Regions from separate parts of the Homo sapiens genome. Here region 2 is linked to region 1. The links come from fine-mapping of genetic effects on gene expression. Tissue or cell type: whole blood. Region 1 holds a variant in brackets; the other region holds the start of a gene. All regions are shown on one strand. Distances are from middle to middle.

Evidence for each region. PIP is the estimated chance that this variant, and not a neighbour inherited with it, causes the effect.
Region 2: it holds the start of CMTM3, and the variant in region 1 is fine-mapped to the expression of CMTM3 in whole blood (TOPMed, PIP above 0.99).

What each region holds. Positions count from the first base shown.
Region 1 is chr16:66,635,907-66,643,450 of GRCh38, forward strand. It overlaps CMTM4 (CKLF like MARVEL transmembrane domain containing 4), which reads right to left. Exons shown (of 4, transcript NM_181521.3): 2 at 499-675. Among named protein-coding and RNA genes, the nearest start is that of CMTM3, 35 kb to the left of the region's middle. The variant T/C (reference allele first, on the strand shown) is at 3,374.
Region 2 is chr16:66,601,932-66,607,869 of GRCh38, forward strand. CMTM3 (CKLF like MARVEL transmembrane domain containing 3) reads left to right here and starts at 2,773. Exons shown (of 5, transcript NM_181553.4): 1 at 2,773-3,021. The coding sequence starts at 2,875. It also overlaps a transcript of CMTM4 not described here. RefSeq lists silencers at 2,658-3,497, 3,558-3,777.

The sequences.
Region 1 (7,544 bases):
GTTTCCACTCAAGACTTTCTGATCAAACCACCAAACCCCCCCAGGTCCTCCTAGTTGCTTTGAATTTAATAATATTCCTAGGCTCTGTAAGTTACTGGCATTTTCATTCATATTTTCAATTCTTCCAGAATCAATATTTTTATAAATGGCTTTTAGGTCCAGTCTGAAAAGTATGTAAATGTCTACACTGTATTTTATTTCCCATATTCTCCAAATATCAACATGACCAGTCTTCTCAGATGATTGCAAAATTGAAATGACATCTTTAAGGTGGCCAAAATAATTGTTATGATGTTTCTCCCATTAGTTAAGATTCAGTTTATTTTGTAGTTTTACTTAACCCAGTAAAGAAATTTAAAATTTCACAGTTGAATTATAATAGAATATTTAAGGATCAAAATGAACTAGAACCAAACATGACCTGGAGAGATTCCAGCTTTTCCTTGGAGCCAACAGGCACGTGATCCTTTCATGGCCAGAGTGGCCGCTTGTACTCACTGTCAGATTCCAGTTGATCTGGGGGATCCTCATGTGCAGGTTGAGACTGAACATAATCAGCAAGACGCCAGTCACCACAAACGCACTGCAGCTCACAAACTCAAAAAAGTAGAGGCCTTCACACGGGGAGCATGCCATGATGGTCTCTATGCAGATGAATGCAATCAGGGCCAAGATCTAGGAAGAAAATTGGAAACATATATGTACGTATATGTTTAGTATACATCTGCGGACATACGTACCTGCCATGCTTATATAACACTGAACAACAACATACTGCCACTGAGTTTTCCTCTGGGACAGCAGTGTAACTGTCGGAAATCAGACCTGCTTCAATTCTTACCTAAAGAATAGGTGCAGGGGTCTTAATGGAAGGATCAAATTACTAATGTAAACAGTGAAGGCCCCACCACATACACTGAAATCAATCTGGTGTGATGTGGCCCCCGGGTGTAAACTGCTGGCCCTTGGGAGGAAGCAGAAACATCTCTACAATGTTTCTAGGTCTTCTCCTGCCACCAATAAGTAAGTGGGTGTTGCCTATGTGTGTTTCTAATTCATGGTCTCTACCACAATTATCCCAAACACTGGGAGAGCAGAATTCTGATGGTGTCTGACTTGTGCCATCTGCAGTTACCTTGGTGGCTCCTGCTAAAGTCACACAGGTTAACTGGGACTCCTGACGGCTTTAAAACAATGATTGGTATAATCTCCTTTTCCCCCAATTAGGTGGGAACAAGAGGCGCACCTAATTAATTCATATGGTTTTAAAAAATATATTTTTTGAACTTGATCACAACAAGATGGCAGCTTATTAAAAAACATTAAGAAATCTACCAATAATAGAATAAATTTCTAGGCTGGGCACGGGGGCTCATGCCTGTAATCCCAGTACTTTGGGAGGCCAAGGTTGGCAGATCACCGGAGGTCTGGAGTTCAAGACCAGCCTGACCAACATGGAGAAACCCCCTCTCTACTAAAAATACAAAATCAGCCGGGTGTGGTGGCGCATGCTTGTAATCCCAGCTACTCAGGAGGCTGAGGCAGGAGAATCGCATGAACCTGGGAGGTAGAGGTTGCAGTAAGCTGAGATCGCGCCATTGCACTCTAGCCTGGGCAACAAGAACGAAATTCCATCTCAAAAAAAAAGAATAAATTTTTTTCTGAAGGACCAAAGTACCATTCTGGCAATATGTCCTAAGAGTTCATAGATCATAAAATCAAATAGATATTGATAGAAATTACCAAGTGAACTTTTAAAGGGGGATTTCAGGAGAAGGAGGAGGCCCAAAGGCGGAGTTAATGGCCCTGTGATCAAAGAAAGGTTTCGAGCACCTAAAGCCAGATCAGTCTCAGGCTCCCGCTCCGCCCAGTTCAGTGGCATCTGAAGCCTATGCCGCTGCTTCCAGGCTGGCCTCCACCTCAAAAGTCAAGGAAGCAGAGGCAGGCAGCTCTGTGGTCCTCTAGAGACTTGTCCTTTAGAGCTTGTGGGAAATGCAGAATCTCTGCTTCCTCCCCTTGAACTACAGAATCAGAATCTGCTTTCTGATGAGATCTTCAGATGATTAAAATGCCAGCAGCATCCAAGGCACGGGCTGTTCTGGGGCCTTTCTCCACCTGCTGAAAGTCCTACTCATGCTTTCCAATGCTCCACTTGATGATGCCGCCACCTCCTCCCCATGTCTTCCCTGACTGCTTCTCCCTGCCAGACATCAGCTTATCCCACCCTCTCCCAGGAAAGCTGGTTCATCTGTGATTGCATTCTATCCTTACCATCTTGCAGCCTCTGCCTCCGGAGCTTTTAGGGGGCAGGGTAGTCCATCCCCATCTACCCCCAAGGCACCAAGCACAGTAACTTTCACATAGCTGGCAGATGGGGGCTGAATGAGCCATTAGAAAACCCACATCTACAATTCCTGGTTGCCTGGTCAGTGTCTTCAGGCGAATGGAAGAGTGGTTCTGCCTTTCCCATTGTCAATACTTCTACACAGAACCTCTTTCCTAACAATATGTGGTCTTTTCTAAGTCAACACATTAAAGACATGGGTCTTCTTGGTCAAAGGATACAAAATTTCAGTTAGACAGGAAGAATAAGTTCAAGAGATCTATTGTACAACATGGTGACTTAGTCAACAACAATGTATTGCATTGTATTGTTGAGAGGAGATTTTAGGCTGGGTGTGGTGGCTCATGCCTGTAATCCCAGCACTTTGGGAGGCTGAGGCAGGTGGATCACCTGAGGTCAGGAGTTCGAGACCAGCCTGATTAACACGGTGAAACCCCGTCTCTACTAAAAATACAAAAATTAGATGGACATGGTGGTGGGCGCCTGTAATCCTAGCTACTTGGGAGGCTGAGGCAGGAGAATCACTTGAAACCCGGGAGGCGGAGGTTGCAGTGAGCTGAGATCGTGCCACTGCACTCTAGCCTGGGCGACAGAGTGAGACTCCATCTCAAAAAAAACAAAAACAAAAGCAAACAAACAAACAGAGTAGATTTTAAATGTTCTCACCACAAAAAAAAAAAACAAAGGTAAGTATGTGAGATAATGCACGTTACCTCACTGGATTGAGCCATTCCACATTGTATACACATTTAGAAACATCATGCTGTACACAGTAAATATAGAGATTTTTACTTGTCAATAACACAAAAGATATGGGTCTTTAAATATACACACTGTGCTTCTCCTAATAGCTCTTCTTATAATTCTCTACTGCACCATAGACTTTAATTCTCCATCTGAATTACATGCCTAACTTGCAATCAATTCACAAAAGAAATAGTTCACATAAGGGAAACTCCTAAACTTTCCCCTTTTTTTCACCCCAGTAATCAGATCTAGTAATCTTGGGCAAGAAATAACACACTGTAC[T/C]GATGAGTTACAAATGTTTCTGGTATGCTAACTTCAACCATATTTGTGTGGGAAGGTAACACCTACATTCTTAAATATTAACATAAAAATGGCTTCACGGATATGCAAATCTAATAGACCATTTGTTGTGGCAGTGAACAAAACAGACAAAAACTCCTGCTCTTAGCTCACAGTCTAATAAAGGAGTTGTTTTTTTTTAAATTACATTTAAAAAGAGTGAGTTAGTGATAAGAACGAAGGAGAAAAATGGAAGCAGGGAAGGTGAACAAAGCATAGCTGGGGCAAAGGTGTTCGAAAGTTTAGACACAGAGACCAGGAAGAGTGGCTCATGCCTGTAATCCCTTTGGGAGTACAGCACTTCAGGAGGTTGAGGCGGGTGGATTGCTTGAGGCCAGGAGTTCCATACCAGCCTGGCCAACATGGCGAAATCCTGTCTCTACTAAAAATACAAAAAGTAGCTGGGCATGGTAGCACATGCCTGTAATCCCAGCACATCAAAAGGCTGAGGTGGGTGGATCGCTTGAGGCCAGGAATTCCAGACCAGCATGGCCAACATGACAAAACTTTGTCTCTACTAAAAATACAAAAATTAGCCAGATGTGGTGCTGCACACCTGTAATCCCAGCTACCAGGGAGGCTAATGCATGAGAATCCCTTGAACCTGGGAGGCGGAAGTTGCAGTGAGTGGAGACTGTGCCACTGCACTCCTGCTTGGGTGACAGAGTGAGACTCTAAAAAAATTTTAACATAAAATAAAGTTTAGGGCAGGCGCAGTGGCTCACAGCTGTAATCCCAGCACTATGGGAGGCCGAGGCGGGTGGATCACATGAGGTCAGGAGTTCGAGATCAGCCTGGCCAACATGGTGAAACCACTAACTGGGCATGGTGGCGCACGCCTGTAATCCCAGCTACTCCGGAGGCTGAAACAAGAGAACTGCTTGAGCCTGGGGGCGGAGGTTGCAGTGAGCTGAGATCGCGCCACTACACTGCACTCCAGCCTGGGTGATAGAGTGAGACTCTGTCTCAAAAAAAATAATAAAAATAAATAAAGTTTAGACAGAGTGTCCCTGGAGGGTGCTATTTGAGACAGAGTTGCCGAACATATAAGGGACAGCTGTCTGGAGAAAGAGCACTGGAGGCAGAGTGGGGAGCAAGGTGAGATCCCTGGGAAGGGGGTCAGGTGGCCCCTAGGGAGAATCACAGGAGGGAGGTCAGACCCAAAGAGCGCTTGGGTGCAGTGAGGTATGCGGCTCTCACTCTGAGTGTGATGGAAGCACCAGAGAGTGGCAGGATCTCCTTTGGGTCTTAAAAGGGCCACCAGCTACTTTGCGGAGAACAGACTACAGTGAGGACAAGGGCAGAAGCCAGGAGGAGAGTGACAAGACCCTTGCAACAATGAATAGGGCTGACCTATTACCTTGCAGAAATGACTTCACAGGTGTGTGACTGCACAGGCTCAGTCAGAAAAGTTAGCATGGTTCCTGCCTTGCTCTCTCTTAGACCACTCATGATGGGGAAAAACCAGCTGCCATGTCTTGAGGGTACTCAAGCAGCCCTATGGAGAGGTATAGGTGCCAAGAACTAAAGCCTCCTGCCAACAGCCATGTTGAACAAGCCGTCTTAGACATAGGTCCTCCAGCCCCAGGCAAGCCTTCAGATGACATAGCCCTAGCCAAAAGCTTGACTGCAACCTCCTGAGAGAACCAGAGCAAAGCCACCCCCCAAATTCCTGACACACAGAAATGAAAAGAAAAGAAAGATCTGATTCTTGTTTGTTTGCTTTTTTAAGACAGGGTCTTCCTCTGTCACCCAGGGGGTGCAGTGATGCAATCATAGCTCACTGCAACCTTGAACTCCTAGACTCAAGTGACCCTCCTACCTCAAACTTTCGAGTAGCTGGAACTACAGGGGCACACCACCATGCCCAGATAATTCTTTATTTTGTAGAGACAGGGTCTCACACAGGCTGGTCTCAAACTCCTGGCCTCAAGAGATCCTCCCGCCTCAGCCTCCCAAAGCACTGGGATTACTGGTCTCAGCCACTGTGGCCCGCCTAAGATGTCTTGTTTTAAGTCACAAAGTTTTAAGGTAATTAGTTATGCAGCAATAAATAATATATCAGGGAGGGAAAACTCTTGTTGTTATAAAACATTAATATTCTACTCATTACTCATTGATTACAGGTACATACAAATCAAACACCTTATAGGCACTTCTTGTTTTTTATCATTTAGTTCCCCAGTACAACCTTATGAGGTAGATATTAGCCCCATTTTACAGATAAGGAAATTAAGGTTCTGTGACATATAGATAGCAAGAAGCGGTGCCAGGATGTAATAGCCAAGATTTGATTCTCAGTCTCTCCAGTTCTTACTGCCCCACTATGTTATTTCCCTATTAGCTTCTCACCCATAAAATTATACCTGCCTCCTTTCCAAATCTCAAATGGTCACTGTGTTCAAAATCCAAACAAAAATATATGTAAAAGGGCTCTACAAATGACAAAATGCTATATACAAAATAAGAAAATAACATGTTATAACCTACACCTATTTAAACCATAAAATACCTATTATATATCTTATTTTCCAGCCCACTTTTTCTGCTAAATAGTGTTTCCACAGGTATGTCCACATATAGATGTTACTTTTAATAATTACATGTATTCATATGTAATTACATAGACAGATACATAAATACACACATATACACCTCTATACACAACCACAATTTAATTGATCCCCTATTGATAGGCATTTAGATGGTTTCTAATACTCTGCTGTTACAAGCAAAACATTTTTTTGTCTGACATTGGACACAGCAAAATGTCAACATTTTCTCTAGCACAGTGAAATCTAATCACTGCTGAAATAAAAACTACCTATTGACCAAGAAGGGCTCAGATAAAGTGATACTAGAAGCCAACAACTTCAAGGGAACCAAAGAGTCAAAAATAGTTCAACTTATAACAACCTTGAAGTGAGCAAATGTCACGTGAACAAATTATACAGAGATGTCCAAAAAGATGTATATAAGAAAAAACTTTTTTGTTTACTAATCATGCGATTATGGATGCCCTTGGAGAGAGTCCTTTCCAGGTGGCAACTACAAACTGACCAGAGTAAATATTTTAATATTTGATAAGTAAACTGGGCCAGGTACAGTGGCTCACACCTGTAATCCCAGCACTTTGGGAGGCCAAGGGAGTTGGATCACTTGAGGCCAGGAATTCCAGACCAGCCTGACCAACACAGTGAAACCCCTGTCTCTACTAAAAATACAAAAAATTAGCTGGGTGTGGTGGCACATGCCTGTAATCCCAGCTAGGCAGGAGGCTGAGGCATGAAAATCACTTGAACCCTGGAGGTAGAGTTTGCAATGAGCCGAGATCGCGCCACTGCACTCCAGCCTGGGTGACGAAGGGAGACTTCATCACCAAAACAAACAAACGAACAAACAAAACCAGAATTGATATTAACAGGTTGTCAGATTTCCACAACTGTGGCAAATTATGATTGGCAGCATCTAAAAGCAGGAAGAGAAGGAAAGAGAGAGGACTGGCTGATGAAGTTACCATAATAGTCATCCTTCCACTCTAACTTTCTGTCACAGCTTCTTGTGCCAGGCAATAATGAAATAGCAATTTTTGGTTTTGTTTCGTTTGTTGCCAGAGTCTCTGTCGCCCAGGCTGGAATGCAGTGGTGAGATCTTGGCAAGTGCAACCTCTGCTTCCCGGGTTCAAGTGATTGTCCTGCTTCAGCCTCCTGAGTAGCTGGGATTACAGGCACCTGCCACCAAGGCCGGCTAATTTTTGTACTTTTAGTAGAGACAGGGTTTCGTCATGTTGGTCAGGCTGGTCTCAAACTCCTGACCTCAAGTGATCCACCCACCTCAGCCCTGCAAAGTACTGGGATTACAGGCATGAGCCACTGCACCCAGCCACAGTGGGCATTTTTGGCATTCAGCTAACTGGAAGTTGAGTGAGGGATACATTAAATTTGGGTTTAGCTGCCGGTTCCACGTGTGGTTAAGCTACCGTAGCACTCCCAGTGGAGGAATGGCTTTCACATATGCTCTGACACCACTGCACAGGCTCATCTGACATTATGACAATGGAACAGACCCCAAACTTCATGAGATAAACTGTCCTATGATGACCAACTAGAAATAT
Region 2 (5,938 bases), 35 kb before region 1:
TGCAGCTGCACCTGGGAGAGCAGGACTCCTGCCTGCTCCATGGAGTGTGCAGCCCAGGCCATGCCTCCCTGCTGCAGCTGGGTGATGATAGCAGCAGGTTGTCTGGAGCCACGGCTGCCATCAAAAGTGATCAATGACTGGTGATTGTCATGAGTGGTACAAGGTCAAGAGATAATCAGGTCTGGCCAGGTGCGGTGGCTCACGCCTGTAATCCCAAACCTTTGGGAGGCCGAGGCGGGAAGATTGTTGGAGGCCAGGAGTTCAAGACCAGCCTGGCCAACATGGCAAAACCCTGTCTCTACTAAAAATACAAAAATTAGCTGGGTGTGGTGGCACAGGCCTGTAATCCCAGCTACTTGGGAGACTGAGGCATGAGAATCCCTTGAATCTGGGAGGTGGAGGTTGCAGTGAGCCAAGATCATGCCACTGCACTCCAGCCTGGGTGACAGAGCAAGCCTCTGTCTCAAGAAAGAAAAAAGAGATAACTAGGTCCACACGTGTTTGTGTCTTTCCACAGTGTCAGATTTTTATTCACCCTATACCCAAGGGTAAAAAAAAACAAAAGCCACAAGCTATCCCAAGGAGCCAATTTGCTTCTTCTTCTTCTTCTTCTTTTTTCTTTCATACAGAGTCTCACTCTGCCGCCCAGGCTGGAGTGCAGCTGGAGTGCAGTGGTGCGATCTCAGCTCACTGCAACCTCTGCCTTCTGGGTTCAAGTGATTCTCATGCCTCACCCTCCCAAGTAGCTGGGGTTACAGGCCTGTGCCACCACGCCCAGCTAATTTTTGTATTTTTAGTGGAGATGGGTTTTCGCCATGTTGGCCAAGCTGGTCTCGAACTCCTGACCTCAGGTGATCTGCCTGCCTCAGCCTCCCAAAATGCTGGAATTATAGGCATGGGCCACTGCACCCAGACCCAAGGAGCCAATTTTCCTTAGTACTTCCCGTTCACTCAGTAGTGAGCACATGGGCTCAAGCCACTCCACAAGTCAGTCAATATTGCAAACCATATATAATAGTATACTTAATCCACATGTAAATGTTATAAACATTCCACAACAAACAAAGTAGCATTTAACATCAAGAGAAAAAGAGATAGGAGAAAGGGTTAAGGAACCAGTTCCAGGGTAAGGAAGAAGACAAAAGGAATCCTGGTCTGGGCTTGAGGGTCTTGCAGAGTCTTTGAGGGGCAGAGCCTTGGGAGGCAGATGCAGAGTTCTTATGAACGGCAGTGGGATGGTTGTCAGTTAAGGCTGCTGGGCTGCTGTTTTGTAGTCACAGAGTGCTCTGGTGAGAAATGGTAGAGGAACAGTGTGCTTCTTTGTGTCCTTATGTGGTTGGACGCAGTCTTTATTTATTTTTTTTTTTATTTTTTGAGACAGAGTCTTGCTCTGTCGCCCAGGCTGGGGTGCAGTGGTGTGATTTTGGCTCACTGCAACCTATGCCTCCCGGGTTCAAGCGATTCTTGTGCCTCAGCCTCCTGAGTAGCTGAGATTATAGGCACGGTGCCACCACGCCCAGCTAATTTTTGTATTTTTAGTAGACACGGGGTTTCACTATATTGGCCAGGCTGGTCTCGAACTCCTGACCTCGTGATCCACCCACCTCAGCCTCCCAACGTGCTGGGATTACAGGCATGAGCCACAGCGCCTGACCTTCTATTTTTTATTAAACAAAACATCTTGCCCTTGTTGGCAAAGCACCCTATGAAATATAAAATGAAGTCTTTTTCTAAGATGGAGTTAGTTATGTCAAGGGTGCGCAGTACTGTGCCATAAGCTCTCCCCCGGCTGCCCAGAGAGAAAACCTAAGGGCCTCTTAAAGACACCATCACAGCAGTTCAGCGGGGAGCAGGCAGGAATGGTTTCGGATCTAGTGGTGGTGAGAAGTAGACAGAGATCAGAGAAAGTTATAGGAGGTGAAAGTGGGAGGACCTTGGTTACAGACTGCCGGTGAAGAGGGACAAGGACAACCCGCAGGTCTCCGCTAGTCAGGTGGAAGGAAAGGAGGGGGCAGTGCCCTTCGCAGAGGCACAGGAAGCTGGGTCTTGATCACGCTGAACTCCAGACGCTCTCTAGATGTGCACGCATGTGCGTGTGGAGTGTGTGTGTGTGTGTGTGTGAGAGAGAGAGATGTGTTGGGGTGGGGGGACTGCAGGTCAGGAAGTCCTGCAGATGTGCGTGCCTGTGTGTGTTTGCGCGCGCGCGCGCGTGTGTGTGTGTCTGTGTGTGTGCCTGGAGCTGCGCTTGCAGGTCTGAGAGTCCTCTGAGAATGGGTTGGGGGAGGCGGGTGCAGGACCGAGGCCTGGAACAGCCAACAAAGAGGCCCTGGAGGAGGGTGGGGCTGGCCGGGGACAGGAGGGGTGGCCAAGAAAGTCGCAAGAAAACTCCGGCCCCCAAGAAAAAGAGAGGGCATGGGTTGCGGAGCCGACATCACGGCCGGGGTCTTTGCTGTTTAGACGCCTGGGTTCCCGGATCCCAGACACGCGCACGGGCAGGAAGTTAGACCGGAGACAGCGAGTATAGACAGCCCTTCTGGATAGGGGCAGACGGGTGGGAGCTCCGAAGGGGTGCCGGGGCGGTGATCGGGAGGTCTCCAGCGGCCCGAACCAGGGTGAAGAAGAAGGTGGAGTCTGCGGAGGCCCCAGGCCGGGGAGGGGGCGGGTCGGGCCCAGCATCCCCCGCAGCCGGGGTCCGAGGGGGAGGGGCGGGCTGGAGGAGCGGGTGGGGGCGGGGCGGGGCGTGGCGGCGGGGGATGCGCCCCTGCGCGAGCCAGTGTCGCCTGCCCTCCTTCCGCACAGCCCGGGTTTCCGCTTCCCTCCGGGCGCGAGAAGAGGGGAGCCAGGCCGAGCCCCGGCCCTACCGCCGCCGCCGCCATGTGGCCCCCAGACCCCGACCCCGACCCGGACCCCGAGCCTGCCGGCGGCTCCCGTCCCGGCCCCGCGGTCCCCGGGCTCCGCGCCCTGCTGCCGGCGCGGGCTTTCCTCTGCTCTCTCAAAGGCCGCCTCCTGCTGGCCGAGTCGGTGAGTGCGGCGGGACCCTCGGCCGCCCCGCTAGGACTGCGCGGCTCCTTTCGGAGGAGGACGTCGGGGCGCGGGTGGGGTCCGGGGGCGGCCGCCGTGCTCCGATACCCCCTCTCCGCGCCGCCTCGGCCGACTTCTCTCGGGCGCCTGGCGAAGTTGGGTCGAGGTCCCCAAACTTTGGACGGCGGGGCGGGGCCCGAGCCCAGGCCATCCGCGGCGCTGTCCCCGCGAGTCCAGAGCTGGGGGCCGTGGGAAGTGGGTGGGGCCCGGGGATGTGGGTCCTGCTGTGTGAGCCAGGCGCCCCCGCCCTCTCTGGGCCCCGGGGACTCGGGCAACTCGGACCTCCGGGACTCCCGGGCCGCAGCGGGGTCCGCTTTCCTGCGAGCGGGTAGTGCGGGCCGGGGCCTCGACCTGCGGGGCCGAGCCGGCGGGGGGCCGTGCGGAGCGGGAGGGATCCCCCACCCCCGGGACTGGGTGAGGCGGCCCCGCGGTGACTTCATCGCCCTCCTCCCCTCCGCGGCCGGGCTCCTTCCTACTCCGCCCTCGCCCCCACCCCGGCCGGTGGGGCTTCTTTGTCCTCTGGACACCGGAGGCGCCCGCACTGTCCGCTGTGGGGTAGGGGTGGCGCTGGGCCGTTGGGGATGGGGAGGGAGAGGCCGGGCCGGAGACCGGGGGAGGCGGGAGGAGAGAGCGGCGCACGGCGGCGGCCACTTGTTGCTTAGATCCCAGGAACTTGGCGCTTCCTGCCCTTGTCCCCACTTTACAGATGAGAGCGCTCAGGCGCCTGATTTGACAGGTGGCTCAACTGAGGGGCCCAGTGAGAGCGGCCAGGAGGGTGGGGGCAGGAGGAAGGGGGATTCTGCTCCGGGACCTCTCCCTGGTCACTCAGGGCAGAGGGCAGAAGGTGGTCCTGCAGCCTCTCCCACGGTCAGCCCAGAGGCCACCTGCCCAACGCCCAAGTGAGACACCAATGCCACACTCCGAGCCCACACTCCCAGCCCCACCCTGGAGACCACTGGGAGCCACTTGAGGGGAGAAGCCTCGAATCCACCGTCCCCAGAGTGGCTTGAACCCCCCCATCCCCACCCAAGACCACCTCATAAGAGGGAGGCATATGTCCAGCAGGAGCATAGAGGCCACCCTGGGCCCAGCAGATGTCAGGAATCCAGGTCAGGGAGGATAAGGAAGGGTGAACGGTCAGCACTCAGGGTTCACAGGAGCCGCTGAGGGCACTCCTGCCTCCCTAGTCCCCTCACTCCCACCCCCAGGCCAAGCAAGTGCAGAGGCTGAGATGGACAGAAACAGAGAGAGGAAGTGGCCCCAGAAATCGCGGGATGAAAAAACAGGAATTGAGAGGGGAATCCCCAGAATTAGGCTTTGGGGTGCAGGCATAGGAGACAGGAAGGGGAGGGCCAGAGCTGGGTCAGTCCCATGGAAGGCCTTCCTGGGAGGCCCCAGCAGCCTCCCAGCCCGTCTCTATGCCTTAGTCTATCTTTCCAAAGGGGGCTCAGCTGCACCCAAGGCCATGTGCAGAGCAAATGGGGGTGCTCTGGGGACCCCCTGGGATCCCTGCAGTTCATTTGTCTGAAGCAGCCACAGTGCTTCCTGTGGGGCATCTGGGTGTCCCCATGGGGACTCCTGCACCCACTAGAAACTACTCAGCCATAGACATGTTCAAACGCAGCCACAGTGACAGAAACCAGGGACAGATGGCCTCCCCAACACCCACAGGGCCAAGTTGCTTAAGAACTCTACCTGGGCCGGGCGTGGTGGCTCATGCCTGTAATCCCAACACTTTAGGAGGCCGAGGTGGGTGGATCACCTGAGGTCAGGAATTCGAGACCAGCCTGGCCAGCATGGTGAAACCCTGTCTCTACTAAAAATAAAAAAATTAGCTGGGTTTGGTGGCGGGCGCCTGTAATCCCAGCTACTCGGGAAGGCTGAGGCAGGAGAATCACTTGAACCCCGGAGGTGGAGGTTGCAGTGAACTGAGATCGTGCCACTGCACTCCAGCCTGGGAGACGGAGCAAGACTCCATCTCTGGGGCGGAGGTAAGATAACTCTATCTGGGGGGTCAGCCAGCCCTGGGTTCAAATTCTAGTAGCCTCTGATTAGCCATGTGACAGAGTCTTCTCATCTGTCAAGTGGGGCTGTGCTCATGGGTGGATGTGAGGGTCAGAGGAGATGCCCGTGAGCCTCAGGGTACCAGGCACTGTGGAGCCCCAGGCTGGCCAACAGGTCACCTTGGCCTGCTCTGCAGCGTACCTGGGCTGCAGGACTGCCCAGGGCTCAACATCCTCCTGCATCAGCTCTTCCCACCTACAGAGTTGTGGGCAAGACCACAGTGAACATTTTGATTCTTGTAGTTCAAGTACAGCTGGCCCCACCTTTCACAGCTGGCCCTGTATGAATAAGGCAGCAGGGCCTGAGGTGTCAGTGCCAACGCACCCTCTGTTAGATGTTCCTTTCTTATCATTATGAAAATTTGCAAATACATTAAAACTCCAAAAGATTTTTTTGCTTTATCTATCTGTCCATCAAGGCATTTTATCTTTTAACACAAAATAAATTGCAGACATCAGGACATTTCAACTCTGAACACTTCAGGACGCATATCATTAAGGTTCAAGGTTTTTTCTTTTCAAGGTGAAATCTACATTCAGTGACGAGCACACGTCTTTGGTGTTGGGTGTTACTTTTTGGAAACTGGTTCCTGCCTCGCTTTGATTTCCCTCCGCAGGGCACTGAGTGGAGTGCATGTGCTTGGAAGGCTGGGGCTTTCTGACTAGGTCCTGTCAGGGAGCTGGGGTGGGGTAAGGTGAGGACTCAGGGCCATGCCCAGGACTGGGAGGCAGCATAGGTGTGAGCCTGGGCCATGCTGGGTTTTTTTTTTTTGTAGGGGCGGGTGCGGACAGGG